4 linked regions of the Homo sapiens genome follow. The protein of the gene in region 2 purifies or fractionates together with the protein of the main gene of each other region. This does not show direct contact. Each region holds a gene or a part of one and is shown on either strand. Other genes may lie near its edges. The genes, in order: CRYBG3, GSK3A, PRUNE1 and PPP1R2.

Evidence for each region.
Region 1: the proteins of GSK3A (region 2) and CRYBG3 purify together in Homo sapiens (affinity purification with mass spectrometry; 2 studies listed by BioGRID and IntAct, with this or other methods). This does not show direct contact.
Region 3: the proteins of GSK3A (region 2) and PRUNE1 purify together in Homo sapiens (affinity purification with mass spectrometry; 3 studies listed by BioGRID and IntAct, with this or other methods). This does not show direct contact.
Region 4: the proteins of GSK3A (region 2) and PPP1R2 purify together in Homo sapiens (affinity purification with mass spectrometry; 5 studies listed by BioGRID and IntAct, with this or other methods). This does not show direct contact.

The regions. Positions count from the first base shown.
Region 1 is NC_000003.12:97,936,986-97,944,011, reverse strand, and holds part of CRYBG3 (very large A-kinase anchor protein), read right to left. Parts: intron 2,865-7,026; coding exon 2,706-2,864; intron 2,195-2,705; exon of another isoform or gene 1,729-2,194; coding exon 1,569-1,728; exon of another isoform or gene 787-1,568; coding exon 698-786; 3' UTR 1-697.
Region 2 is NC_000019.10:42,232,597-42,239,622, reverse strand, and holds part of GSK3A (glycogen synthase kinase-3 alpha), read left to right. Parts: intron 1-2,681; coding exon 2,682-2,765; intron 2,766-2,906; coding exon 2,907-3,017; intron 3,018-4,944; coding exon 4,945-5,075; intron 5,076-5,163; coding exon 5,164-5,270; intron 5,271-6,239; coding exon 6,240-6,337; intron 6,338-6,417; coding exon 6,418-6,513; intron 6,514-6,940; coding exon 6,941-7,026. UniProt on the Homo sapiens protein: Constitutively active protein kinase that acts as a negative regulator in the hormonal control of glucose homeostasis, Wnt signaling and regulation of transcription factors and microtubules, by phosphorylating and inactivating glycogen synthase (GYS1 or GYS2), CTNNB1/beta-catenin, APC and AXIN1.
Region 3 is NC_000001.11:151,018,440-151,025,465, forward strand, and holds part of PRUNE1 (exopolyphosphatase PRUNE1), read left to right. Parts: intron 1-27; coding exon 28-230; intron 231-6,171; coding exon 6,172-6,356; intron 6,357-7,026. UniProt on the Homo sapiens protein: Phosphodiesterase (PDE) that has higher activity toward cAMP than cGMP, as substrate. Plays a role in cell proliferation, migration and differentiation, and acts as a negative regulator of NME1. Plays a role in the regulation of neurogenesis.
Region 4 is NC_000003.12:195,540,315-195,547,161, forward strand, and holds the start of PPP1R2 (protein phosphatase inhibitor 2), read right to left. Parts: upstream 3,012-6,847; 5' UTR 2,712-3,011; coding exon 2,590-2,711; intron 1-2,589. UniProt on the Homo sapiens protein: Inhibitor of protein-phosphatase 1.

The sequences.
Region 1 (7,026 bases), on a different chromosome or scaffold from region 2:
GTAACAGTGCAAGTTTGGCCATAGGTTATTTATTTGTACTTTTTTAGTTTGAAGGACTGAGGAAACAATAGCTACAGAAAATACTTCTTGTGCCTTATTCCTAACAAAGCTGAGGTCCCTGCCTGGGGTTAGTTACAAGTATAAATACTTAACGAGGTGCGTTCATTATAAAAGCCTCAGTATAGAAACCTTAAAGTTTATCTAGGAAAGTTTAGTATATTTTCAGGTGTTGCTAAAAAATTACTCATCTGTTTGCAAAAGTATGACTTGACCTATAGAAATCTGTTTCTTTATGCTTTGTACTCATACAAGCATCTAGGTAGGATATTAATAAATAATACAGGATAATAGCATCACCAGTGTCCAATAACGGGCCATCAGGAACAGGATTCACGTTTGGTGGATATGAGAGAAAATAAACACTTCAGGAAACTTGCTCACCACAGCTGGAGATCAGGAATAGAACCTTTCCAAGATATCATAATATTTTCTTTATAGGAACACTGAGTAATGGCAAGAATATTTTGAGCTTTTCCATGGTTAAGAGCGATAGTCTCAGAGGCTGGAGAAAATGTTCATTCTGCTCAGTGATCCAGGAGTGTGAGGACAGTAGCTTCCTTTCCACGTCCACAAGACAATGACAGATGTGTTTCCTTCTTTGCTCTTTCTAGGGATCTTTCTAGGGATGTTGATTCTCTCACAATATTTCAATGTCCCATTTCTGTGTTTCTTCTCCCTCCAGGGGCTGATTTACAATTACATGAGTCTTGTCACAATAATTTCCTCCTAAAATAGAAATTCCAAAAGAAAAGATTATTTGTTCAGGCAGGTGCTTAGCAATTTCACAATTTTCACAAGCTTCTGTTCAGCTCACCATTTCGGTGGATGAATGTGTCATTTACAAAGAAGTCTGAAATGGGAAGCTGAGTTTGAACAGGCTTAGCCATTATTCACCTCAAATTGGACCTTATTATGACTCAAATTGAAATACTAAAAGGTATAATACATGATTGTATAAGTGGCGTGCCTTAATGTGATTCTTTAGAACAAAGTGCTCTTGAGAGAACTCTGGCTGAATGTCAGGTACTGTGTTTTTGTTTCTACACCAACAAAACTGTGACTAACCCAATTAAAGCAACAGCCATGAATAATATTGGCCCTGACCTTGCTGAATTCAAAAACAAGGTTAATTGATACCTACCATAAATTCTACCTGAGGGTTTTTAAGGACCATGGCAATTCCTGGCAAAAAGCTAGAGATGTTTCTAAGAAACAGATGACATTCATTTCATGGTTTATGGTGCTTGAAATTTAGAACTGTTCTGAGTTCACGTAGCAAATGAAAGTTTTACAACTGTACTAATGAACAAAAACCCTAAGCTTTGTTGTTTGGCTTTTTCTGCTAATTGTTTTGTTTGTAAAACTGCCTATCTTAATTTTCTTCAAGCATAATTTTAAATGACTTAACATTTCTCTTATACATAAGGATGTCCTTTACCCAAAATGAGGAGATTTGGAACTGAAACTAATATCCAGGGACACAACATTGGGTATCATCAAAGGCCCACCTTTAACATCAAGGACAAGTTGATCACTGAGATAAGAGCTGATAGTTCCATTTTTATTCAGTCTCCACTTCTGCCTGAATTGCCCATGTTCAGTCCATAGAGCTACTTTAGCTCCAGGTGTGTCCCGGCCACCAATCACATCAAGACATGTATCACTGGCCTAAAAGGGTTAAGAAATGATTAATTGGCAGTAGTATGTTTGCTAAAGTAAGTTGAATTAGGTCCCTTTTATCTTAGGTAAACAAGTCATAGACATGAAGTGTGTGTGTGTCTTATCTAAAAAAATACTATATAGTATAATTTCAGTAAGCCTTTTTTAATGTCTTCTTTACGGCTGTGGGTAGGAGATGGTACAGAAATAAACCAACTGAAATAGAGGTACTTGTTTTTAATAGGATGTCTACATCTGACAACAGATGTTCAATAAAGATTTGGTGAATTGGAATTAAATGTTAAATCCCTGTTTGCTTAAAACGTATTATGTTGAGCTTGGTTTTCTTATGAAAACATTGCATGATGGGCTAAAGATATCCAGACAATAATTACTTTTAAAAGTTTTTCATTTTTGAAGCATGAGAAAAAGTAGATAATCCATTGGTGATACAATAAAACACAGTTTGAATGTTTTTAAAGTAGTGTTCTATTCCCAATGCATTAAACATAACGGAAGGGTCATAGAAAAGAACCCTAAATTTTATTTTCTAAGCTTCTTCCAATAACAGCTTTCTTCTTCTACTGCTTCTTTGTATACTTTGAAAATGAAAGGTTTCAACATATTTAGAATCACAGAGATGGCTGATTTTATCTGGGCCATCAAGTAAGGAACATCTTACAAAAGCACATTGTCCAACTTAGATCTGGTGACTTATACCATTGGTTGTAAAAAATCACTTAGGTATATCCATAATATGTGATAACCTTTGTGTTTACTTAAAAATTGAAACTGGATTTTCTTGTTCAAAAAATTAAGTTAATTTTATATAAATGTTTTAGTAATATATGGCAGTATTTTTATAATCAACACCTGTTTCTAAGAAGTTGCATTGTTTTATCATGCCAGTTGATTTGACAGGATTCTAGTTTTCAAAATAAAAAACAGACCAGAAAGTGGCATACTGTATCAGTGGGATTGCTTACCTTGGATTTAAAGAGTCCTCGGCAGTAGTACCAGATCTGAGTATTCTTTCCACTATAGGGAGAAATGCACACAGATGTTGCCCTGGTGTCTGCTAGACTTCCAGTGACTGTCAGATATTCACCCTGGGCACGGTTCTTTATTCTGATGTACACTGCAGGCTATGACAGGAGAAACAGCCATTTAGAAATAAACTTTTGAATCTGGAAATGAATCCTTCCAGAGGAGGAAAGCTGGGAGGGAAAGTGAGAGGTAACTATCTTAGTTATATCAGTTTCACTCTTATTCCCTTTAGTAAATCTGCATAGATTAATATGGTAAATCCTTAGGCCGTGGAGCATAAAGCTTAAATTGTACAGTCTCTATTACACTTTGTGAAAAGTGCCCTTTTGAACAGCATGAAGTAAAAGTTTCTTTCACTAGAATTCCATGTGGTGAGGAGTGGGGTGGTAAAGAATTAGGGACTTGATGAGTTTCATTCAATAGTGTGTCCCAGCTGTGCTGAGGGAGGTAGGGGAGTTATTACCTACAAGGATTTTCTAAAAACTTCAGAAAGACATACTGTGGAGCTATGACTAAATGCCATAAGTTGGCCCTGGGAGGTCTTGAAAAACCCAGATAGCTGAGGGCACTAGTAGCTGTGATTATTTGTTTATATAAGACCTTTATTTCTTCAAAAGTAGAGACCATGTATGTTTAATGACTATACTTAGGTACTCAAAAATTGTGTAACAAAGGACTTCATCCCCTTGGCCTGGAAGTTTTAAGATACATACAAAAAGTTTTAAAATATTAAACCTGGGACTTGCCTCTAAGGAGAATAGCTAATATTTATTGAACACGTAGTATGTGTAAGCAGCATGCTAAATGCATTCTGTGCCATTATGTTATTTGTCAGAATAACCACAAAAACCTATTAAGAAAGTACAATTATACCCTAGTTTTACAAATAAGGTGAACACAGATGTAAAGAAGCCAGGTTCCTCTTAACCAGGATGCTCTCAGACCTATGTTGAAATGCACTAGTTGCTCTTAGGCACAGGGAATAAGAGACGAATTCCAAAGGTGGCAGTGTAGGACAATGAAAGAGCAGGGCACATAATGGAAGCACAACAGAAGCCATTATTTCAGCCCTATGACTTAGGCCTCCAGCCTTAATGTAATAAATGACACCCAACATGACACCCAACATCCCCACCTTTGGTTCTTCTCATTGCCATCCCAATTAGAACCCTGGCTGAGTAATAACAAATGGTCTCTTAAGAGAGCACTTTCATGCTAAGAAACATAAGTGCTTAGGTAAATGCAATAGGTCATATGGTAAGAGAACCAATGAACAGTCTACTGTTTTTGAAACTTGATAGATCAACGTGAAGCTAACTGAATTTTGGTAATTAAACCTTCCTAAGGAAATACACATTCTCAGCACTTAAGCCAATAGAAGGACAAATTATCTGGCCATTTAAACCAGGCGAACAAGCTCTCTACTTGGCAAAATGTTTTAAATGTTTCAAATCCCTACTTCCAACATTAACAATGCAACAGTAGTGTACTTAAATGTCTATAATTCAGCCGGATCTACTGCAATTATTAATTCTTGAGGCTTCAGTATATCTTTATTACATTTTCATTACCTTGTACATATAAGAAAACAGGCGTGACCTTCACAGATGACAGAGTTCCAATTACTTTAGGACCAGACATCACAGTTTTAATCAATTAACTCAGGCAAGGTACTAATTACCCTTATTACACATTTGTAGTCTGACTGCTCTGTAATTATACTTAAAAACACTGATATACATTATAAGTACCTTAGTGACTTCCTAATTCCCAGCCTCAAAGAGGATCACATTTTAATTAGTCCTGAATTTCTAAACAAGAATATGAACCAAAGCAGTACCAACAGCCTTACCACAAATTTAAATGTGACCCACAAACTACTATTTTAGAAACTCAGAATTCCTTTGTTGGATTTCAAAACTGTGACCTAAATAAACAAAAGGAAAAATAATCTATTAAAATATTATTTTGAAATTAAATGTTTAATCAGAATAGGAATCAGGTAGCTCCTAACGCACAGTGAAAGAAAATAGCATACTATTCTTGTTAAAAAAAACTTCCTTGTAAAAGTAGAGGTGGCTGTTCTATCCTTTACCAGACAATCTTGAACAATAGGCAGGGACATCCTTCTTCCCCAACAAGGAACCACCATTAAAAAATGAGGAACATATTTTCATTGTTGAACTTGGCTACTAAAGTCTCTAACAACAGAGGGTCAGCATTATTATGTAGTTAGTAAAAGCTAAACTGAATTCCTATCTCTACTTTGCTTTTTCTGATGGCTTTTCAGTGGGCTTACTCCCTGTTCCACATGATAGGAGTGGGGAATAAGCAAGATGTAAAGGTCATGAGATCGTCTACCACACACTCTGTGCCAGGAAAGCCATTAATGTTTCAGTATCCCTCAAAAGAGCATCTCAAGGGACATTGTGAATAATAATAATAATAAAAAATTTTCAAAATAAGTGTATTACCATAGTAATATGAGCCAGAGCCATATCAGACTGTTCATATACATTATCTTATTCAACCGTCACAGCAATGAGATGTAAGCAATGTGATCACTGCTTCACCAGTGAGAAACCTAAGGTGCCAAGAAATGAAGTGACTCACCAAGCTGCACTGCTTACAAATGGCAGAGCCAGGATTTGAACCAACAGAACTCATGAGTGGTGGGATGAGAATGGTGTGTGTGCATGTGTGCATGTGTGCATGTGAAGAGGGTGAGAGAAGACCAATTAGGTTAATATTTTATTGGCTACCATTTATTTAACACTTAAGTAAGGGTTAAATAAGTGTCAGGTCAGAACATCAGAGCCTCAGCATTTAGATCCACTAGGCTATATTCAGCTCAGTGCCTGAAATAGGTGGTACTCTCTAAGTGCTGATCTTAGGCTGATGGAAAGTAGAGTGTGGTTGCTTAAGAACACAGATTTTAAAGCATAGTAGATTTGGGTCCAAATCCTGGTTCTGACACTTGATGTGCTTTTATTGTCACAGGTAGGAATCATTATCCCCATTTTCCAGATGGAGCCTTATTCTTCTCTCAGAGCCTTATTATTCCAACTAGAAAATGGGGATAATAATTCCTACCTCAAAGGACTGTTGTTGGAATCAAGCAAGAAAGTGTTCTAAAGAGATTAGAGAGAGGTACTAATGCCATATCCACGGGCCATCACACCCCTGACAGTTTCACTTGGGTTTTCCACCTTCCATGAAACCTCCCCACTACTCCTACACATGTTGATACTTCCTTTCTCTGAACCAGGGACTGCCTGTGGCTTTTGGATAATTATGCATTGTTTTGCATTTTATGTTACTGCTTTGAGTTGGACATGTTTTACCCAACAAAAATGTAAGCTTTAATAATATTGGCAGAAATCGCATCTATCTTTATATTTTCCATTATACTTTGCATAATATCATTGATCCATCCACTGATATATTCATTCCTTCATTAAATAAATAGTTCCTCAGCTCCTACAATATTCCAGATATTGTTTCAGGCACTAGGGGTAGAGCAATGAGCAAAACATGGACAGTCCTTGACTTCACAGGGTTTTCTATAGAGTGGGAGAGACCCCGATCCAACCATAACGCTAGGGTTATAAACTGCATACAGTGTTTTTGTAGAAAAAGAACCCCCAGGTCTTTTATGATCTAATGTAGATTGGGAGAGAAGGTGGGGGAGGCATTCTTGAGGACCTGACACTTAAGTAGAATTTACAGGGATGACTAGTCAAATAAAGAATGAGGGAAGAACACGATACAGAGGGTGCAGCCCATGTTAAAAGTCTTAGTGGGAAACCACTCTGTACTTTGATGCCTGTGACACAACCATGTGAAAGATGAGGTTGGAGAAGCAAGGTGGGGTAGCGGGTAGATTGTATTCTAAGTGCAGTGGGAAGCTTTTGAACAGAAGACTGACAAGCAGTAGGTGTGCAATAAATACTTATTTTAATTAAATTGCCAGGATCCATCCTGAGTATTATATAAGTAGGGAGGGGAATATCCAAATGCTTAGAAATTAAAACTAGTACAGTATCAAAGTTCATTCCTGTTACCAAGGTTTGCCACAGAACTTACAGTATCTTAGTTTTCCACGAAAAGTGAACATGGCCAATGAGGCTTTGGACTGAAAACTGAAATCCAATGTTGACTTTAGATACAATCTTACAAATTGGTTAAAATGTACAAGATATCCGCATCCTAATTCACTCCCCCTACTATGTAAATGGCAAACTAAATTAAATGATCATT
Region 2 (7,026 bases):
AGGTCATAGAGCAAGTGCCCCAGTCAAGGCTGGAATCTGATTCCCAAACCCTCTACCTTAACCATTTGGTTACACTTCTTCCCAGGAGAGAAAGGGACCTGGCAGGGCTAGCGCGGGTGGTTCTGAAGGTCGCGCTCTTCCCAGGTGTTTGGCCAGCGCAGAATGGAATGGAGGTGCCCTGTGAGCTAGGAGAGGCTCAGGGAACTAGAAGGAGATGGAGGAAGTGGAAGTTGAGGAATAATTGGTGTTTAAGGGCCTGGCATTTGGAGCTTAGACTAGTCTGGATGTAGGAGAACTGAGCCTAGACTGGAAAGGAACCAGACCAGGGCCTCGGTCTTGGCAGGGAGGGCCCTTGGGCAGGAGGAGCTCCAGGGTGTCAGAATTTGATTGGAGTTGAGTTCCAGAAGTAAGAGGGATGTAGGGGCAGGGAGTTCCTAGGCCTCACTGAGGAATAGAGAATGGGGAAGAATGCTGAGACCGCATTCTGGGAAAAGTCCAATGCCTGGAGTCTGGGACTCAGGATCCTAGATAGAGTTCGAGGACCCAGATGCTTCCACGGGACCAGAGTGAGCTGGATGGCCACTACCTGTCTGTTGTTGCTTGTGCCAGGTAGGGGGGCAAGCCTCATGTGCCCATGCCTGATTTTTTTTTTTTGAGATGGAGTCTTACTCTGTCACCCAGGCTGGAGTGCAGTGGCACGATCTTGGCCCGCTACAACCTCTGCCTCCCAGGTTCAAGCGATTCTTGTGCCTCAACCACCTGAGTAGCTGGGATTGCAGGCATGGGCCACTATGCCTGGCTAATTTTTTTTTTTTGTATTTTTAGTAGAGACAGGGTTTTGCCATGTTGGCCAGGCTGGTCTCGAACTCCTGACCTCAAGTAATCCGCCCCCACCTCGACCTCCCAAAGTGCTGGTATTACAGGCATGAGCCAGCATACCTAGCCCTGATTTTTCAAGACAAACTGAAAACTGGATTTAGATGTGAAATCTTTTTTTTTTTTTTTTTTTTTTTTTTGAGACGGAGTCTCATGCTGTCACCCAGGCTGGAGTGTGGTGGCGTGATCTCGGGTCACTGCAACCTCCGCCTGCCGGGTTCAAGCGATTCTTCTGCCTCAGCCTCCCTAGTAGCTGGGACTACAGGCGTGTGCCACCACTCTCGGCTAATTTTTTGTATTTCTAGTAGGGACGGGGTTTCACCGAGTTAGCCAGGATGGTCTCTATTTTTTTTTTTTTTTTTTTAAGACAGAATCTCGTTCTGTCACTAAGGCTGGAGTGCAGTGGTGTGATGTCGGCTCACTGCAACCTCTGCCTCCTGGGTTCAAGCGCTGCAACCTCTGCCTCCTGGGTTCAAGCAATTCTTGTACCTCATCCACCTGAGTAGTTGGAATCACAGGCGTGCGCCACCATGCCCAGCTAATTTTTTTGTATTTTTAGTAGAGATGGGGTTTTGCCACGTTGGCCAGGCTGGTCTCGAACTCCTGGCCTCAAGTGATTTCCCTGCCTTGGCCTCCCAAAGTGCTGGGATTACAGGGGTGAGCCACCATGCCCAGCTGTTTTTTATTTTATTTTTATTTTAAGGCTGGGTATGGTAGCTCATGCCTGTAATCCTTGAACTTGGAGAGCCCGAGGCAGGAGGATTGCCTGAGACTAGGAGTTCAAAACCAACCTGGCCAACATAGCCAGGTTCTTTTAAAAATAATAATAATAATAAATTTTATCTTATTTATTTATTTATTATTATTATTTTTTGAGACAGAGTCTGTCGCCCAGGCTGGAGTGCAGTGGCGCGATCTCAGCTCACTGCAAGCTCCGCCTCCTGGGTTCACGCCATTCTCCTGCCTCAGCCTCCCGAGTAGCTGGGACTACAGGTGCCTGCCACCATGCTTGGCTAATTTTTTTTGTATTTTTAGTAGAGACAGGGTTTCACCGTGTTAACCAGGATGGTCTCAATCTCCTGACTTCGTGATCCACCCACCTCAGCCTCCCAAAGTGCTGGGATTACAGGCGTGAGCCACCACGCCTGGCCCTGGCCTATCCTTTTTAAAACTTTATTTTGGAGAAAAAAATCAGAAGGTGCCATTTGGCTTTTACATGTCAGCAATAAGTTGAAAAAAAATTTTTTTTTAAGTGGGGTGGCTGGGCGCGGTGCCTCACGCCTGTAATCCCAGCACTTTGGGAGGCTGAGGCCTGTGGATCATGAGGTCAGGGAGGCTGAGGCAGGTGGATCACAAGGTCAGGAGATCGAGACCATCCTGGCTAACGTGGTGAAACCCCATCTCTACTAAAAATACAAAAATTAGCTGGGCGTGGTGGTGCATGCCTGTAATCCCAGCTACTTGGAAGGCTGAGGCAGGAGAATTGCTTGACCCAGGGAGGCAGAGGTTGCAGTGAGCCGATATTGAGCCACTGCATGCCAGCCTGGCAACAGAGCAAGACTCTGTCTCAAAAAAAAAAAAAAATGGGGTGAAGAAAACACATCTGTGGCCTGGGTTTAACCTGTGGGCTTCCAGCTCCTGTGGGAGGGGAATAGTCTGGAGACAAGGAATTGGGGGATACTCCAGGGGACCTTGGAGCTGGGACACAGGGAGTAGCTGCCTGGCTGTTGTTGGGAGTGAGTGTGAGTAGGGAGGAGCAGCCGAGAGAGTTGGTTGTATTCTGAGACTCTCCCTTTGCCCTCAAGAACCGAGAGCTGCAGATCATGCGTAAGCTGGACCACTGCAATATTGTGAGGCTGAGATACTTTTTCTACTCCAGTGGCGAGAAGGTGAGATCTCGAGGTGGTGGTGGTGGGTTGCTCCAGCCATTTTCCTGCCTGCCTGCCTTTCCCCCACTGCTCCCTGCATACCTTCCTTCCCCCTCCTCACTCTTCTCACAGTGCCTCACACCTCTCCTTTGCTCCCTGCAGAAAGACGAGCTTTACCTAAATCTGGTGCTGGAATATGTGCCCGAGACAGTGTACCGGGTGGCCCGCCACTTCACCAAGGCCAAGTTGACCATCCCTATCCTCTATGTCAAGGTAGGCCAGCAGGTGGGCTGCTGGGACCCAGGCCCACAAAGCCAGGGGCTCTGGAGCCTCCTGCCTTTTATGGGATCCCTCATCCGCCAAGTTTATGTTGGTTTTTGGAGGCCCCATGTCCCCTGCTGTTGTTCCCATAACCCCCCGAGATGGAGCTCGCCTAACACAGGGGAGGGCCAAGGCAGGCAAGGCCTGACTGAATCAGGAAGGCAGCCTGACACCTGGGGTTGCAGAAGCTGCCAGGTAGTTGCTCAGGTCCATACAGGGAGTCCAGTGGCACCAGAGATGTTGGAGTTAGCTCAGGATAAGGGGGTGGTGGGGACCAGGACTGCACAGAGACAGCTGCTGAGGCCAGAGTTCGGGCCTTTAGAGCCTTGGCTGGGGGTAGGTGGGAAGGAGTTAGGGCTGGAGGAAGGTTAGCATCCACAGAGCCAGGAATGCATCTCCGTCCATCATCTGTGCAGGCTCATTCCCCAGTGCCTGGCATCGTGCCCTGGGTGTTACAGACCTTCAGGAGGTGTTTGAATGAATGAATGAATGATTGCAGCCCAGGGATGATGTGGCGAACAGGCTGGAGCAGCCTACTGCATTGGAAGGAGGTGGGTGGGTTTGTTTGCTGAAGGTCACTTGGGGCCCAGCTGCTGCTCCTGCTGGCTTTACGTACCAAGCACGGGTGAGCCGACGTGGGCTCTACCAGTGGTTGTGGCTGTTGGACCTCACTTCCCAGGAGGGGAGCTCTCTGGTTTGGCGAATCTGTCCTGTGGCTGCCTGCATACGGGTCCCAGGGCTGAGGAATTCCAGAGGCACCACTGACTGCGACCCAGGCCTTGGCCTTGAAGAGCTCTCAGTTTGGTAGGGTAGAAAGGCGTCATCACAGAAAACTATTAAATGAACTAGCTGCTGCCATACCAGAAGGAGCACAGGGAATTCTGGAAATGGAGGAAGCACCCAGCCTGGTTTGTGGGTGAGAAGGATCAAGGAAGGCTTCCTGGAGGAGACCAAGCACAGGGCAAGGAAGTGGCATCTTTGGCCGAGGGGAACTGGAATAAAAGGAAGGGGGCCTAGGAAGCAGCCATGTCAGGACCTGGTCTGTCTAGGCCCTGGGGGATGCAGCAGTAACTGAAACTCAAAATCCTGCTCTCACGGTACTTCTGTTCTAGTCAGTGGGAGGGAGAGTGGCAGGAAAATGGAGCTGGAGAGGGGGCAGGCTCAGGGGTGGTTTTGATTGTCGGATTAAGGAGCCAGTGGTTTTGGTGAGGGGGAAGCTGAGTGCCTGGCTCCCTAGCCTGTTTTATGACAACCTCCCGATGTACCTTACTCATCAGGCTTCTGCCAAGGGTTGTGATTAAAGCAGTGGTTCTCAGAGTGTGGTCCGGGGACCAGCATCAGTGCTGGAGAGCTTGTTGCAAATGCCTCATTCAGAACTCACTGATCAGAAACTCTAAGAGTGGGGCCCAGCAGTCCCTTTTTTTTTGTTTTTTTTGAGACAGGGTCTCTGTCACCCACGCTGGAGTGCAGTGGTGCGATCTCGGCTCACTGCAACCTCCGCCTCCTGAGTTCAAGTGATTCTTCTGCCTCAGCCTCCCGAGTAGCTGGGATTACAGGTGTGCACCACCACGCCCGGCTAATTTTTGTATTTTTAGTAGAGACGGGATCTCAACATGTTGGCGAGGCTGGTCTTGGCCTCCCAAAATACCGGGATTACAGGCGTGACCCGCCACGCCCAGCCAGTAGTCCCTGTTTTAACAAGTCCTTCAAGTGATTGTGGTGCACATTAAGAGAACCAAGGTTTCAAATGGGTTTCCCCAAAGCTGTGGGGGCAGCAGGGAGAGTGGGCCTGGAAGGGCTCTTCAGGCCAAGCTGGTGGGGTAGTGGTGCTGTATGGGGAAAGCTGGGCTAAAGTTCTGCTATCCTGTGCCCGCCGCAGGTGTACATGTACCAGCTCTTCCGCAGCTTGGCCTACATCCACTCCCAGGGCGTGTGTCACCGCGACATCAAGCCCCAGAACCTGCTGGTGGACCCTGACACTGCTGTCCTCAAGCTCTGCGATTTTGGCAGGTGGGCCTGGGGCATGTTGGGTGGCTGAAGAGGCAGGGGGGACCCCAACCCTTGCCTCACGTGTACCCCTGCCCATCTCTTCCCACAGTGCAAAGCAGTTGGTCCGAGGGGAGCCCAATGTCTCCTACATCTGTTCTCGCTACTACCGGGCCCCAGAGCTCATCTTTGGAGCCACTGATTACACCTCATCCATCGGTCAGAGTTATGGGAGGGTGGCGGGGGGAGTGGCAATCTGGGAAGTTTTGGAGTTTTCTGTGTGCTGTATGCCAAGCTTGGTGATGAAAGCTTAACTTCTGTTCTTGTATCCAGTCCTCACAAACTTAGGAGGCTGATGCTGTTGAATGCTAATTTTACAGATGAGCTTAGAGCTGTGAGGCCGCCTGCCCGCACTGGCACCACTAGGACTGGGCAGGACTGGGATTTGAAAGCTGACCTGACTCCAGAGTCCATACCAGCTCTGGAACCTCCCTGTCAGCCCTCTGTTCTCAGCTAGGGGGAAGGGCTGCTGGAGACCTTGGGGGAACCGGGAAGCAAGGCTTTGCCACCATGAAGGTGCAACTTGCTCCCAGGGCCTCTGTGTCCTTCCCTGTTTGTGGGGACAACTGCCATTTTCCAGGCATGAGGGGAAGTCTGAATTGAGGGAATGGGCATGAGAGTTTGAAAGGGCACCTTCCACAGCAGCATGACGAACTGTGGAGTCCTTAGGTATGAACTCGTGCTGTGGGGGTCAAGGTACAAAGCAGGGAGGGGTGAGACTGCCACGCTGCAGCTCTTCTCATGGGCAGGAGAGAGGCTGGAACAAGAGGAAGGCAGTCCAGGATTTAAGGCTGTACCTTCCTGTGGCCCAAAGAACATGGGTGCCTGTTGGCAGGTTTGGGCCTAATTTGGTCTGTCGTCCAAGGCTAGCGGGAGAGAAGGAGCTCATTGGGGTCCTTAGCAGAGAGAGGAACTGAGGGCTGGAAACACACCTAGACTAGAGAGTACAGCAAAGGCAGGGTCAAGGTCGGGCCCATGTTTCTAAGCTGCATGTGACCTTGGGCCAGGTGCTTTGTCTTTGAGAAAACGGGGCTCCTGACACTCTTAGGATGGCCATGAGGAATAAAAGCATTGGGAGGTTGGTGGCCCTACTCGCCTAGCCCTGACGCTCCCTCCATTTCCCCTCAGATGTTTGGTCAGCTGGCTGTGTACTGGCAGAGCTCCTCTTGGGCCAGCCCATCTTCCCTGGGGACAGTGGGGTGGACCAGCTGGTGGAGATCATCAAGGTGAGGGGCGGGGCTGGGCTGGGCAGGGGGTGGGGCTGAGGGATGGGGCCCTTGTCTCAGACCCCTCCCTCTCTTTACAGGTGCTGGGAACACCAACCCGGGAACAAATCCGAGAGATGAACCCCAACTACACGGAGTTCAAGTTCCCTCAGATTAAAGCTCACCCCTGGACAAAGGTGGGGCAGGGCTAGGGGCTCAGGGCAGTATGGCTGAGAGCTGGTCCCCCTTGGAGGTCAACTGTTCTGTGGACCTAGCCTCAGAATCACGGCTTGGGAGGATTTGAAGAGTTATCCAGGGATCAATAACATCCATCCGCTTTCAAAGTTTATGGCATTTTAAAAGTTGAGAACCCACAAGTAAATTCAAGATTCCAATTTTTATGGAGGGTCAGCAGGGCTCATATAGTCCCAGACCTGGGCTGCCTGCTTACCCGATACAAACTGACCTCTCCTTAGTGGTTGGGCCTTAGTTTCTTCATTTGGAAGGTGGGGGTGTGGGAAGCAACCAGTCATAACTTGCCGCAGGCACTGTGGCAGTGAGATAACAGGAGTATGCCAGTGTCCAGGGCATCTCACCCTCATGAGCCCTGCACCCATCCCTCAGGTGTTCAAATCTCGAACGCCGCCAGAGGCCATCGCGCTCTGCTCTAGCCTGCTGGAGTACACCCCATCCTCAAGGCTCTCCCCACT
Region 3 (7,026 bases), on a different chromosome or scaffold from region 2:
ATACCTTCTTTTCACTTTCCTATCTAGACAACTGAGGCTGAGGAAGTCTTTGTGCCAGTTTTAAATATAAAACGTTCTGAACTACCTCTGCGAGGTGACATTGTCTTCTTTCTTCAGAAGGTTCATATTCCAGAGAGTATCTTGATTTTTCGGGATGAGATTGACCTCCATGCATTATACCAGGCTGGCCAACTCACCCTCATCCTTGTCGACCATCATATCTTATCCAAGTAAGCACAAGGAAATTAAATTGCTACCTATCATGTACCATGCTGGGCTCTGATGAGTGAGATATAAAGAGAGGAAGAAAGAGTTTTTGCTGGCTGGGCATGGTGGCTCATGCCTGTAATCCCAGCACTTTGGGAGGCCAAGGCGGGCGGATCACCTGAGATCAGGATTTTGAGACCAGCCTGGACAACATGGCAAAACCCCGTCTCTACTAAAAATATAAAAATTAGCTGGGCGTGGTGGCAAGTGCCTGTAATCCCAGCTACTTGGGAGGCTGAGGCGGGAGAATCACTTGAACCTGGAAGGTGGTGGTTGCAGTGAGCCGAGATCGTGCCACTGCACTCCAGCCTGAGCGACAGAGCCAGACTCCGTCTCAAAAAAGAAAGAGTTTTTGCTTTCAGGGATCTCATAGGCTAATCATAATTGATAGGTCATATTAGATATAGAAAAACAACACAAAATATTGTCAGTTCTGCAGTTATATGTATGTCTGTGGCATATAGACATACCCTATAATAAAAAGAAATAGAACGTGTTGAGTTCAAACTAAAGGGTAACTCAAAAATCATTTAAATCTGCCTTTGGTATCATTATTTAAGATTTTGTGTGCCGGGTGTGATGGCTCACGCCTGTAATCTCAGCACTTTGGGAGGCCAAGGCAGCCAGATCCATTAAGCTCCAGGAGTTCAAGACCCGCCTGAGCAACATGGCAAAACCATGTCTTTACAAAAAATTTTTAAAAATTAGGCACGGTGGTGCATGCCTATGGTCCCAGCTACTCGGGAGGTTGAGGTGGGAGGATCACTTGAGCCCAGGAGGTCGAATCTGCAGTGAGCCAAGATCACACCACTCCACTCCAAGCCTGGGAGACAGAGGGAGACCCTGTCTCAAAAAAAAAAAAAAAAAAGATTCTGAGACAGATTTATTGTAATAGAAACCTTTGAAAAATGTTTGCAATTCTCTTTTTATTTTTTTACTTATTATTTATTTTTGTACTTACTTATTAAATTTTTTTTAGAGAAGAGGGTCTTGCTATATTGCCCAGGCGGATCTCAAATTCCTAGGCTCATGCTATCTTCCTGCCTCTGCCTCCCTAAGTGCTGGTTTATAGGTGTGAGCCACCACACCTGGCCTGCAACTCTATTTTTAATTTTAATTTTAATTAATTATTTTTTTTTGAGATGGAGTCTTGCTCTGTCACCCAGGCTTCAGTGCAGTGGTGTGATCTCGGCTCACTGCAACAACCTCTGCCTCCTGGGTTCAAGCGATTCTCCCTGCCTCAGTCTCCTGAGTAGCTGGGATTACAGGTGCGCGCCACCATGCCCAGCTAATTTTTATATTTTTTACTGGAGACAGGGTTTTGCGCTGTTGGCCAGGCTGGCCTGGAACTCCTGACCTCAGATGATCTGCCCACTTTGGCCTCCCAAAGTGGTGGGATTACAGGCGTGAGCCACCACACCTGGCCTATTTTTAATTTTTAAAAAGTGGCCTGGTGTGGTGGCTCACGCCTGTAATCCCAGCACTTAGGGAGACCTGTCTGACCACTATAGCGAGACCCTGTTCTCTAAAAAAAAATAATAAATACAAAAATCTATAAACATAGTGTGACCTTGTCTCTACTAAAAATAAAAAAATTTGCCAGGTGTGGTAGTGCATGCCTGTAGTCCCAGCTACTTAGGAGGCTGCTGAGGTGGTAGGATCACTTGAGCCTAGGAATTGAGGCTTCAGTAAGCCATGATCACATCACTGTACTCCAGCCTGAGTGACAGGGCAAGAACTTGTCTCCAAAAAAATTTTTTTAAGTTATCAAAAGGGCCAGGTGTGGTGGCTCACACCTGTAAACCCAGCACTTTGGGAGGGTGAAACAGGAGGGTTGCTTGAGCCCAGGAGTTCAAGACCAGCTTGGGCAAGATGGTGAGATCCCATCTCTACAAAAAAATTTAAAAGCACACAAAAAGTTAGCAAAAGTTTTTCTACATAAACTCTTACGATTTTAGAATAATGTATTATGTTAGAATATATAAATATCTCAGGCCAGGCGCGGTGGCTCATGCCTGTAATCCCAGCACTTTGGGAGGCTGAGGGGGGCGGATCATGAGGTCAGGAGATGGAGACCATCCTGGCTAACATGGTGAAAACCCGTCTCTACTAAAAAATACAAAAAATTAGCCGGGCATGGTGGCGGACGCCGATAGTCCCAGCTACTCGGGAGTCTGAGGTAGGAGAATGGCATGAACCCGGGAGGCGGAGCTTTCAGTGAGCTGAGATCATGCCACTTGCACTCCAGCCTGGGCGACAGAGCAAGACTCCATCTTAAAAAAAAAAAAAAATAGCTGGGCGTGGTGGCTCGCGCCTGTAAGTCCCAGCTACTTGGGAGGCTGAGGCAGGAGAATCGCTTGAACCTAGGAGGTGGAGGTTGCAGTGAGCCAAGATCGCGCCACTGCGCTCCAGTCTGAGCGACAGAGTGATGCTCTGTCTCAAAAAAAAAAAAAAAAAAATTAGCCAGGCCGGGCGTGGTGGCTCACGCCTGTAATCCCAGCACTTTGGGAGGCTGAGGCGGGCAGAATCACCTGAGGTCAGGAGTTTGAGACCAGCCTGACCAACATGGAGAAACCCCATCTCTACTAAAAATACAAAATTAGCCAGGCGTGGTGGCACATGCCTGTAATCCCAGCTACTCAGGAGGCTGAGGCAGGAGAATTGCTTGAACATGGGAGCCAGAGGTTGCGGTGAGCCGAGATCATGCCATCGCACTCCAGCCTGTGCAACAAGAGCGAAACTCCGTCTCAAAAAAAAATTTTTTTTAATCTATAAATATCTCAATAATGTCTGTTTAACAAATGTACACATTTATAATAATTCCATCCCTAATTTACTACTGGAAAAAACTACCAAAAAAGCAACACGATTATGTGACTTTCCTAAGTCTGTTTGGCTCCTGCTAATATTTTTTTCTTGAGCACATTGTGGTTATAGCAGGATACTGACAGAAGGCAGCCTGAGAGAGCATTATCCATCTATGGATTCATTCAGTAATAAACTTTCCTTTTTTTTTCTTTTTTTTTTTTGAGACAGAGTTTTCTCTTGTTGCCTAGGTTGGAGTGCAATAGTGCAATCTAGGCTCACTGCAACCTCCGCCTCCCGGGATAATTTTGTGTGTGTGTGTGTGTGTGTGTTTTTAGTAGAGATGGGGCTTCACCATGTTGGTCAGGCTGGTCTTCAACTCCTGACCTCAGGTGATCCGCCCACCTCGGACTCCCAAAGTGCTGGGATTACAGGTATGAGCCACCGTGCCACCACCTTTTTTTTTTTTAAGAGATGGTGTCTCTCTCGCTCTGTCTCCTAGGCTAGAGTACAGCGGCATCATCATAACCTTGAGCTCCTGGGTTCAAGGAATCCTCCCGCCTCAGCCTCCTGTGTAAAAGCATCATTCCTGGCTAATTTTTTTTTTTTTTTTTTTGAAACTGAGTTTTGTTCTTGTTGCCCAGGCTGGAGTGCAATGGCACCATCTCGGCTCACTGCAGTGAGCCTCCCAGATTCAAGTGATTCTCCTGCCTCAACCTCCCAAGTAGCTGGGATTACAAGCATGCGCCACCACACCCAGCTAATTTTTTGTATTTTTAGTAGAGACGGGGTTTCACCATGTTGGCAAGGCTGGTCTCAAACTCCTGGCCTCAAGTGATCCGCCCGCCTCAGCCTCCCAAAGTGCTGGGATTACAGGCGTGAGCCACCACGCCCGGCCTGGCTAATTTTTTTTTTTTTTTTTTAAGAGACGTAGTCTCGCTCTGTCGCCCAGGCTGGAGTGCACTGGCGCGATCTCGGCTCACTGCAAGCTCCGCCTCCCGGGTTCACGCCATTCTCCTGCCTCAGCCTCCCGAGTAGCTGGGACTACAGGTGTGCCCGCCACCACACCTGGCTAATTTTTGTATTTTTAGTAGAGACAGGGTTTCACCGTGTTAGCCAGGATGGTCTCGATCTGACCTCGTGATCCGCCCGCCTTGGCCTCCCAAAGTGCTGCGATTACAGATGTGAGCCACCATGCCCAGCCTTTATTTTTTATTTTAAATATATATATTTTTTTTTTATGGAACAGTTCACAAATGTGCATGTCATCCTTGCTCAGCGGCCATGCTAATCTTCTCTGTGTCATTCCAATTTTAGCGCATGTGCTGCTGAAGTGAGCACTGATCTCAGTCTTGAAAGAGGACTAGGTGTTTGCTTGGTGAATTGGGAGGGAGGAGGGAAGGTGGTTAGGAAAGGCATTCCAGGCAGAGGGAGTAATTAATAGAATCAAATGCAGGCAGGCGTGAAATAGCATGGTGAGCTAGGGGAAATGGAATTTGTTTTGCACAGCTGGAGCATAAAATTTGAGGGAGAAGTAGGACATGGAAAAAGATGAGACAGAGGGGGCAGGCAGGAGGCAGATTATGGAGGCCTCATAGGCCCTTCTAAGGTGATTGGATTTTATTTTAGGCCGTGGGGAACTATTTTAAATTATATTCTGGGTCCTAAAAGAATCAGATTTTCTTTTTTCAAATGATCATTCAGGCCACTTTGTGAAGGACAGCCCAGGAGGGCTCTTGGTTGGAAGCAGGTGATTGGTTAAGAGACTACTGGAATAGTCCAGACGAGAGATATTGAGGGCCTAGAGTGGGGCAGTAACAGAGAGTTAGAAACTAGGGCATGGATAGGAATTAAGATAGAATTCACAGGACCTGGTGACCCACATGGAATCTAAGTATTGAGTGGGTTATAAAAATAGGAGAGATTTGCTGGGCGCGGTGGCTCATGCCTGTAATCCCAGCACTTTGGGAGGCCGAGGCGGGCGGATCACGAGGTCAGGAGTTCGAGACCAGCCTGGCCAATATGGTGAAACCCCGTCTCTACTAAAAATACAAAAATTAGCTGGGCCTGGTGGTGGGCGCCTGTACTCCCAGCTACTTAGGAGGCTGAGGCAGGAGAATTGCTTGAACCTGGGAGGCGGAGGTTGCAGTGAGCCAAGATTGCACCACTGCACTCCAGCCTGGGCGACACAGCGAGATTCCGTCTTAGAAAAAAAAAAAAAAAGGAGAAATTTAGATGTTGGGTATCAAGGGTGTCAAGGGTATAGGGTTGGAAAGGCAACGCTAAAGGACAGCAAATGTGGGGGTAAGATATTTGCAGCAGATGCTTCACAGAATTTGCTTATACACTATTTAAAGATGACTCCAATTATAACATTAAAGAAAAGAATTGCTGGGCGCGGTGGCTCACGCCTGTAATCCCAGCTCTTTGGGAGGCCAAGGCGGGCAGATCACGAGGTCAGGAGTTCGAGACCAGCCTGACCAACATGGTGAAACCCCATCTTTACTAAAAATACAAAAAAAAAAATTAGCCGGGTTTGGTGGCACGTGCCTTGTAATCCTGGTTACCCAGGAGGCTGAGGCAGGAGAATCACTTGAACCCGGGAGGTGGAGGTTGCAGGAGCCGAGATCGTGCCATTGCACTCCAACCTGGGCAACAGAGTGAGACTCCGTCTCAAAAAAAAAAAAAAAAAAGAATTGAGAGGAGTTAGGCAGAGGTAAAAGTAACCAAAGGTCAGTTTTAAATGCTTGCCTGGCAGATCACCTGAGGTCAGGAGTTTGAGACCAGACTGGCCAACATGGCGAAACCCCATCTCTACTAAAAATACAAAAAAATTAGCTGGGCATGTTGGCAGGCGCCTTTAATCCCAGCTACTCAGGAGGCTGAGGCAGGAGAATCGCTTGAACCCGAGATGCAAAGGTTGCAGTGAGCCAAGAACGCACCATTGCACTCTAGCCTGGGCGACAAGAGTGAAACTCCGTCTCAAAAAAAAAAAGACATCTGCATTTTCCTTGATGTGTGGGGTAGAGGTTGGCTAGAAGCAGCTGGAGTGTCCGTACCTATCTTTCTTCCTCTTTTCCCATACCCTCCCCTCCACAGAAGTGACACAGCCCTAGAGGAGGCAGTAGCAGAGGTGCTAGACCATCGACCCATCGAGCCGAAACACTGCCCTCCCTGCCATGTTTCAGTTGAGCTGGTGGGGTCCTGTGCTACCCTGGTGACCGAGAGAATCCTGCAGGGGGCACCAGAGATCTTGGACAGGCAAACTGCAGCCCTTCTGCATGGTAAGGGTGGCTTTTGGATTGGGACCTCAGTAGTTCTATTCCTGTCCCTGAGAAGGGAGGGTGGAAAAGTCTAGACGCTTCCAGCCTAACCATATGCTCTCAGAGCCATTCAGCTCATACCAAAAGATAGGATTCTTTCAGGGGACAATTGAGCATGTGTTTAAAGGCCTGTGGGATACTTGTTGGAGAAAGTAGAAAGGAAGTGCAGGGCAACAGACCAAGAAGCTTCCTATTGGCATCATTTTATGATGGAAGGAGGATTAGCTAAAGAAGCAGGAAACAGATTCCAATACCAATTCCTCCAGGAAATAGGTGACCTTGAGCAAATCTCTTAACCTTTCTTGTTCTCATTTTTCCACTTGTAAAAAAAAAGAGAGAGAGAGTGAGTTGGACTAGACTGTCTTTTCCAACTTAGAAGATTCTTTGATGGGATTTGGCCTACTGAAGAGGTGTATCTCTGTCTGACTAGGCTGTAAAATCTCCAAGGTTTGAGATGCTCAGGCTTTCTTTCTACCTTTTCCCCATTTCCCTTCCTACATTTTAGTTTGGATTTGGGAGGTCTGAGGACACTGTCCATCCCAGTTTCTCATTTTGCTTTCAGAGATTTTGCTATACAAATCTCCTTGTGTGTGTCCATTTGGTGTGAAGGTTATATATGTTCTGGTGGTTG
Region 4 (6,847 bases), on a different chromosome or scaffold from region 2:
GGCCTATTTAGGGTCCTTTCCTGCATTTTTGTTGGTGAATCTGGTGTGTAAAATGGCTCCCAAGTGTAAAGGGCTATTTGGTATTGGCTGAATTTGTGGAGGGGGCCAACTGTATATTTATTGTTTCTGTTCAAAGAGGATCTCATAAAGTTTGCATGACTTGTGACAAATAATAATGTATATTTGGTATGGTTTGAACGTTTGTCCTCTCTGAAACTCACGTTGAAACTTGATCTCCAATGTGGCAGTGTGGAGAGGCACAGCTTTTAAAAGGTGACTGGGTCATGAGGGCTCTGCTCTGATGAATGGATTAATCTATTCACGGATTAATGGGTTATCAAGTGAGTGGTTCTGGTGGCTTTATAAGAAGAGGAAGAGAGACCTGAGCTGGCACGCTCAGCTTCCTTGCCATGTGATGCCCTGCACCACCTTGGAACTCCACAGAGTCCCCACCAGCAAAAACGCTCTCACCAGATGCACCCTTAAGACCCTGGACTTCCAAGCCTCCAGAACCGTAAGAAATAAATTCAGTTTCTTATAAATTATCATTTCAGACATTCTGTTATGACCAACAGAAAACAGACTAAGACTATATTGTATTACTAGTAGAATTAGTTTATTTGCTTTACAGTCACATAACAAGGATCATTAAAAAACCCATCCTTTTTACCACTTGGAACCAAACATCATGAACTTCAATGAATTAGGGTTTGATAGTTCTCTTTAAAGACAGGACTGTAACTCTAACTCGACAGGTCAGTCCCTTTTAAGTGAATCTACCCTGCCACAGATACTACAGAAGAGGCAGCCCTATGCAGTTGAGTCAGTCTAGTATAGTGGCTTTTGAGGCAGAAAGACCTGAATGTAAATCCCAACCAATTACAGAAAGAAAGAGGCCAATCCATAGATTGGGCCCACGGGAAATTACAGCAGATCCAAGTTAAGAATAAACAGAAACTAAAGAAGCAGAGATAAAGAGTAACTCACTTGGTAAATGGACCAAAAGAAACTCACACTGGAGAACAGCTAAATAACATAAATGCCAGTAAGGACCACATTCCTGCTGCTGAAAACCCTGAAGCTACATTTGAGCCTTCTGTAGTTACGTTACTTATCTTTTAATTCCTTTTCTTTTCTTTCCTTTTTTTTTTTTTTTTTTTTTTTAAGAGATGAGGTCTCATTATGTTGCCCAGGCTGGTCTCAAACTCCTGGGATCAAGCAATCCTCCCACCTTGGCCTCTCCAAGTGCTGAGATTACAGGCGTGAGCCACCACGCCTGGATGTTATTTATCTTTTAACTAACTTGGTTCTCCTGCTTCAGTTATGTTCTGGTGAAATTCTGTCTTCTTAATTCCATGACCTACACATCACACTCCCCCAGCACTCCATTTAACGTGGCTTAGCCCAAAGAAGTTGGAAAATTGTGTGTGAGAGAATGTAAGATTCAAGCATCCATGAGCGTGGGAGTTGCTAGACAAAAACTAAGGTCCTTTCCAGCCCCAAAAGGCCACGATTCTAACCTATGAACCTACTCAATATTTCCTTCAAGGTAACACAAATCCCTAAAATTTACCACCACCAAGCAGTAGTTCCTTTTATGGTCCTAAATAAGATCCTTTATCCAGGAATGCCCTAGGTTCCTATATTCTGAGATTTCACAAACATCCTCATTTTAGCTTCTGACTACCAATTTCAATGGTAACTTTTCTTAAGCCTTATTTTCAGAAAGTAGAGTCCTTCTATTTTTAGTATCTTGCAACGCCCAAGCCCCCGTGCACTTCTAACCCACTACAGATACTGTACTGCAACATTTTCTCCGTGCATAAACGCCTACCTTTCTTTTTTTAAAGGCTAGTATATTGTTCCATTATACAAACGTACCGTAATTAATATTTCACCAGCTCTTACTAATGGACTTCCGGTCGTTTCCAATTATATTATAAATATTACATACAATGCTCAGGTCAACAACTTTTTACATGTGTATCTTTAGCGTATGCAAGAGCAACTAAATTACCACTGGGTCATTTCAAGTTGCTCCTCTTTGAACTGTTTTGAGCTTAGATCTATCTCTGAACAGGAACAAAAACTAGAAAGCACCCAAAACTCTGGTTGCAGATGCAGAAATACAGTGTGGCACAATGCTAATGGGGGAAATGGTCTCTTCTTTGACGGATCGCCTATTAGCTTGAGACTAGATCTTAAAGGGTTCCCAAAGCAAGAAAATACACTGTAATTATCGAAGAATTTTAGATACCTCAGAGATGAGGTTAAGAAATAGTAAAAGCTTAACAGTCGAAGATCTGAAGCTTCAATTTCATTCTTTGATGTTCCCGATTACAGAAAGTTCAAAGATGATGTTTAAAAATATTATATATGCCCAAATGCTTAAAAAAAAAAAAGGAAGCATGATAAACGTCATCGCCCAGCCTTCTTAAAGATCGCTCCCACCCGCGGCTAGCCGGGCAGGAGAAGAGACTCGAGCGGCACCCGAGCCGCATCCACGCCGCCCGCCCGCCCCTGGGGTCTGGGTAGGTAACGGGCCCGGCGGGAAGGAGGGGCTCCCAGGCCGTCCCTCCCAGCGCTCACCTCAGCTCCTCGTCGACATTCCCGCGGGGCTGTTCGGCCGACGCCACCATAGAGGAAGTCGTAGAGGTCTTGTTCTTCAAGATCCCCTTGATGGGCCGGTGCGAGGCCGTCGAGGCCGCCATTGCCGGGCGCTCCGGCTGTCGGCTCAGGGTCGCTGCTTGGCGTGGGGTCCGCGAAGAGAAGGGTCGGCACAGCAGAGACTCGCAGGCAGCCGCAGATCCCGCTCAGGGCTAAAGCGGCCGCAACTGCTGCCTCGGAAACGGCTACCGCAGCGGTTGTCACGACACAACGACCCCGACGCCAGAGCCAACGCCGAACGGGTGGCGGCTACTCGCGCACCCTTAGCCACTGGCACTTGACCCGCGGCTCGCGGAGAGACGCCGGCCTAGAGCTCCAGCGCAGGAGCGACGCGACGCCGAAGCCAAGCGGACCCGCCCTCTCGCGATATCTAGGGAGGAGGCGGGGAGAGGGCGGGGCGAGAACAAAGCCGACCTCCTCGCCCCGCCCCCTCCGTCCCGCCCGGGCTGCTCGCCCCGCCCCCGCGCGGCGCTGGGAGGCGGGAGCTGTCTCTGAGAACCTGCGGGAGAGCGCCCGGGCTTGCTGCTTCCCGGACCCGCGCGTCTCTCGAGCACCCTCGTCCCACCACCTTGTGAGGCCGTAGTGTTATTTTTATTTTTTAGATCAGCAGACTGAGACTCGAGGTGACGTCACTCCGCAGAGAGGTTAGCTGACTTGAAGAAAACGGGTATCTCCTCTTTCCATTTCGCCCGTGTAAACAGCCGAACTGCCTATTATAAAAGCATGGACTGCCAGCATTGGAGTGGTCCTTAGAGGCCTATTATGAAATCATAGAATGTCTGCATTGGAATCGCCTCACCTCCTTTTACCGCTGGAGAAGCCGACGGACAGACGGGCAGCGACCCCCGCCGTCGCACAACCCGTCTAGGCAGAGAGCGCAGGAGACGGGAGGGCGGCAGGGACACATCTCCCAGCCAAGGACCTCCTGGGCCCGCAGAGGCCGCGACAGGTTCCCCCCACAGAGGGAACCAACTCTGCCGCAGGTTGATGTGGACTTCAAGCCTGCAGAACGGAGAGCCCATTTCCATTGCTTAAAGCCACCTCGTGTGTGGTATTTGTTATGGTCCCTGTACACTCCCTTCCCTCCCTCTCCCAAGTCCAGTCCGCAGCTCGCTCATCACCAGGCTCTTTTCCATGACTCTTTCTTGATCAGGCCTTTTTATCGTCCTCACCACAGGTTAGAGCACAGCAGACTGAGCCACCCAGAACTGGCCCCTCCGGTGGACCAGCCCCTGCGGATTCACAGACCACTGGTCCTGGAAGGGACCTTGTCAAGCAGGCCCATAAGGTGGCTATTCAGCCTGTTTCTCCAACAACCCCAGGGGCTAGAAGCCCGCCACACCCCCGTGTAACTCATTTTGTTTTTGGACAGCTCTGACTCTGGGAGTTCTTAGATTGAGCTGACACCTCGCTCCCAGCAATGTCTGTCCACTGCTGTGGGGGGTGAGAGGAAGCGTTTTCCCCTATCTAGCCCCTATAGCAGCAGTTTCACTCCCATGGCTCATCTCTGGACCACAGTCTCATCTTCTTTAACACAGGCTCTGTGCCTTTTGAGGATGACCCTGTTCTGTGTCCTTAGGACTCTGCCCCTCAGGGATGACTGTAGGGTTCTGAAAACGATTGTTTTTATCGTCTGGCCCCGAGCCCCTAGCTCCTAGATGAGTTCCTGGCACAGAACAGGGCCTCAGTATGGGAATGGATGTGGATGGAGATAATGGAGGGGAAGTGAGCTGGAAGGGGAGAAGGGAAACAGGGTTGCTGGTCACAGAGTGGAATGTGTTCCCCAGGGATTTGCCTCAGCCAGGGGCCTGCACAGTCACTGTTGGCACTGTCCCCACCTTTGTTCCCAGTCAAATATCCACTGGTGCCGTCTCTCCCTCCCAGGCCAGGACTGCTCAGTGGATCTAACATTACACCCTGACAGCCCTGTCCAGCCCATGGAGCAGAGAGAGAGGGTTCTCAGCGAGGGGAAGCAGGATGGCCACCTCCCTTCCCTTCCTGAGTTCTTTCCACCCCAGTGTTCAACACCTGTGTTGCGTCTCCTGCCCTGTCAGCAGGAGTCTAGGTCAGTGATGGCAATCCTGTTTTCAAGGGAATACACAAACTTCCCTGTATGTTCCAAATTATTGGGCAGATTTGCTTTGTTCCTGCTTGGGCTGGGAAGCATCACTGAGTTCAGCATCCCTGAACTCAACTGTGACTGGGCCCTTGATTAAGCAACAGCTTGCTTTCAGACCCTCTAATGAAAGGGACTACGATCGTATGACATAAAGTGTTTTATTAGTTAATTAACTAACAAACATTGGAACAGGAGGTGATGAAGAGTTCTCTGAAGAACCTTGGAAACATATTTCCCTCATCAAGAGTTAAACTTTTGTCTCCTGTACTGGTTCTTCCACTCCCAAACCCACAACAAATGAATGCAGATGAAGATGACTTTGGTAGCACTTAAAAAAAAATAGTTTGTAAAATTGTGAGGGCCAGTACTGCTTTTTTTTTTTTTTTTTTTGAGACAAAGTCTTGCTCTGTCGCCCAGGCTGGAATGCAATGGCACAATCTCCACTCACTGCAACCTCTGCCTCCTGGGTTCAAGTGATTCTCCTGCCTCAGCCTCCCGAGTAGCTGGGACTACAGGTGCCTGCCACCACACCCAGCTAATTTTTGTATTTTTAGTAGAGATGGGGTTTCATCATGTTGGCCAGGCTTGTCTCAAACTTCTGACCTCAGGTGATCTGCCCGCCTCAGCCTCCCAAAGTGCTGGGATTATAGGCATGAGCCACCACACATGGCCTGCTTTTCCTTATCTTTCAGAATAGTTGAACTACTTTATTCCTCAGTGTGGCCCAAATAAGATTTTCAAATGCCTCTAAACAGAGCTCTCCTTCTGTGCCTCTGCTGAGGTTTGCTCCTGTAGGAAGTTATCTGGACCAAACAGCCCGAGCACTGAATTTAGCTGTATTGCTGTTACATTTCCTGTGTGTTGAGGGTTTGGCTGCCAGGAGGTGAATTGTAGATAGAATCTTTCATTCTGGTTTCAGTTTCTGGAAGTAGCTATTGAGCTCAAGGCAAATCATATATTTAAAGATATATACATGATTTAAGGATAATCTGGCATTTATCTCTGCTCTCTTTTTGAAGACTTCATTATCATGGTTGCCTGACCCAACACAACATATTTGGAGGAGGAGAGGGGACACTTTTATTGTACCCCATCACGTGGCTGAGTCATTTGGCTCTCCATTCACTGGAACAGACGACTATGGACACCACCATTGGGTTTCCCACCAAGGACAGAGTTCCAAAGCAACAGTGGCTTCCATGGTTGGCTCACCCAGCCTGCCTGAGTCATCAGCTAGGTCCACAGAGTAGAGAAGTGGGTAGTGCCCCCGCCTAACATCTGGAAAAATTCCCAAAAGTTGTGACTTCATGACCACTGAGTCAGCAGCAACTCTTTTCTTGCCAAGAATAGCACATTGTTCTTTTCCTTTTCAGGTAATCCCTCCCCGGAAAGAGAAGATCACAGATTTTGTCATATTAAATACATTGTAGAAATTCATGGTAGCAGGGGCAAGATCATTTAAACAAAACAGAAAGTTTCAGAGAGAGAAAAAGCCAAGGACAAAGATTAATCATTTTTCTGCTTAAAAAAAATGGCTTTGATTTGCAACCATGGAATGCTCCACTGTTTCTCTTCTCTTCAAAGACATCTACTGAAAGGATTCCTTAACCTTACCAAGTGGCCAAAATACTTTTCTGAGAAGAGTCACAGAGCATAGGCCCCCCTAGGGTACACAGAGATTTCATTAGTCCCTAGATGTTTCCTGATCCTTTTAAAAACTGGTTAAATTCAGAGACTCTAGGCAATTACTTCTTTCAGAACCTGTGAGGCAAAAACGAAAGAAGAAGGCAGGACACGCAGTGTAACAAACCTTGGAATGGTAAGTAGGAAATATGAGTTAGTTTTTTGGCTAAGCTATGAATTTACCTTGTGCCTGCCAGAAATCACTCAGTCTTTTGTGACTGTAAATTTTCTGTAAGTGTTAATTGGTTTGGTTTATTATTGCAAGAAGCAAGGGAGCAATGTTGTGTATTATAATTTCATTGTGTCAATTTTGCCAAATTATCTTGCATTTTGTTATTCTATGAACTCATAATGGGATAAGGAGTATAGGCTTTGATT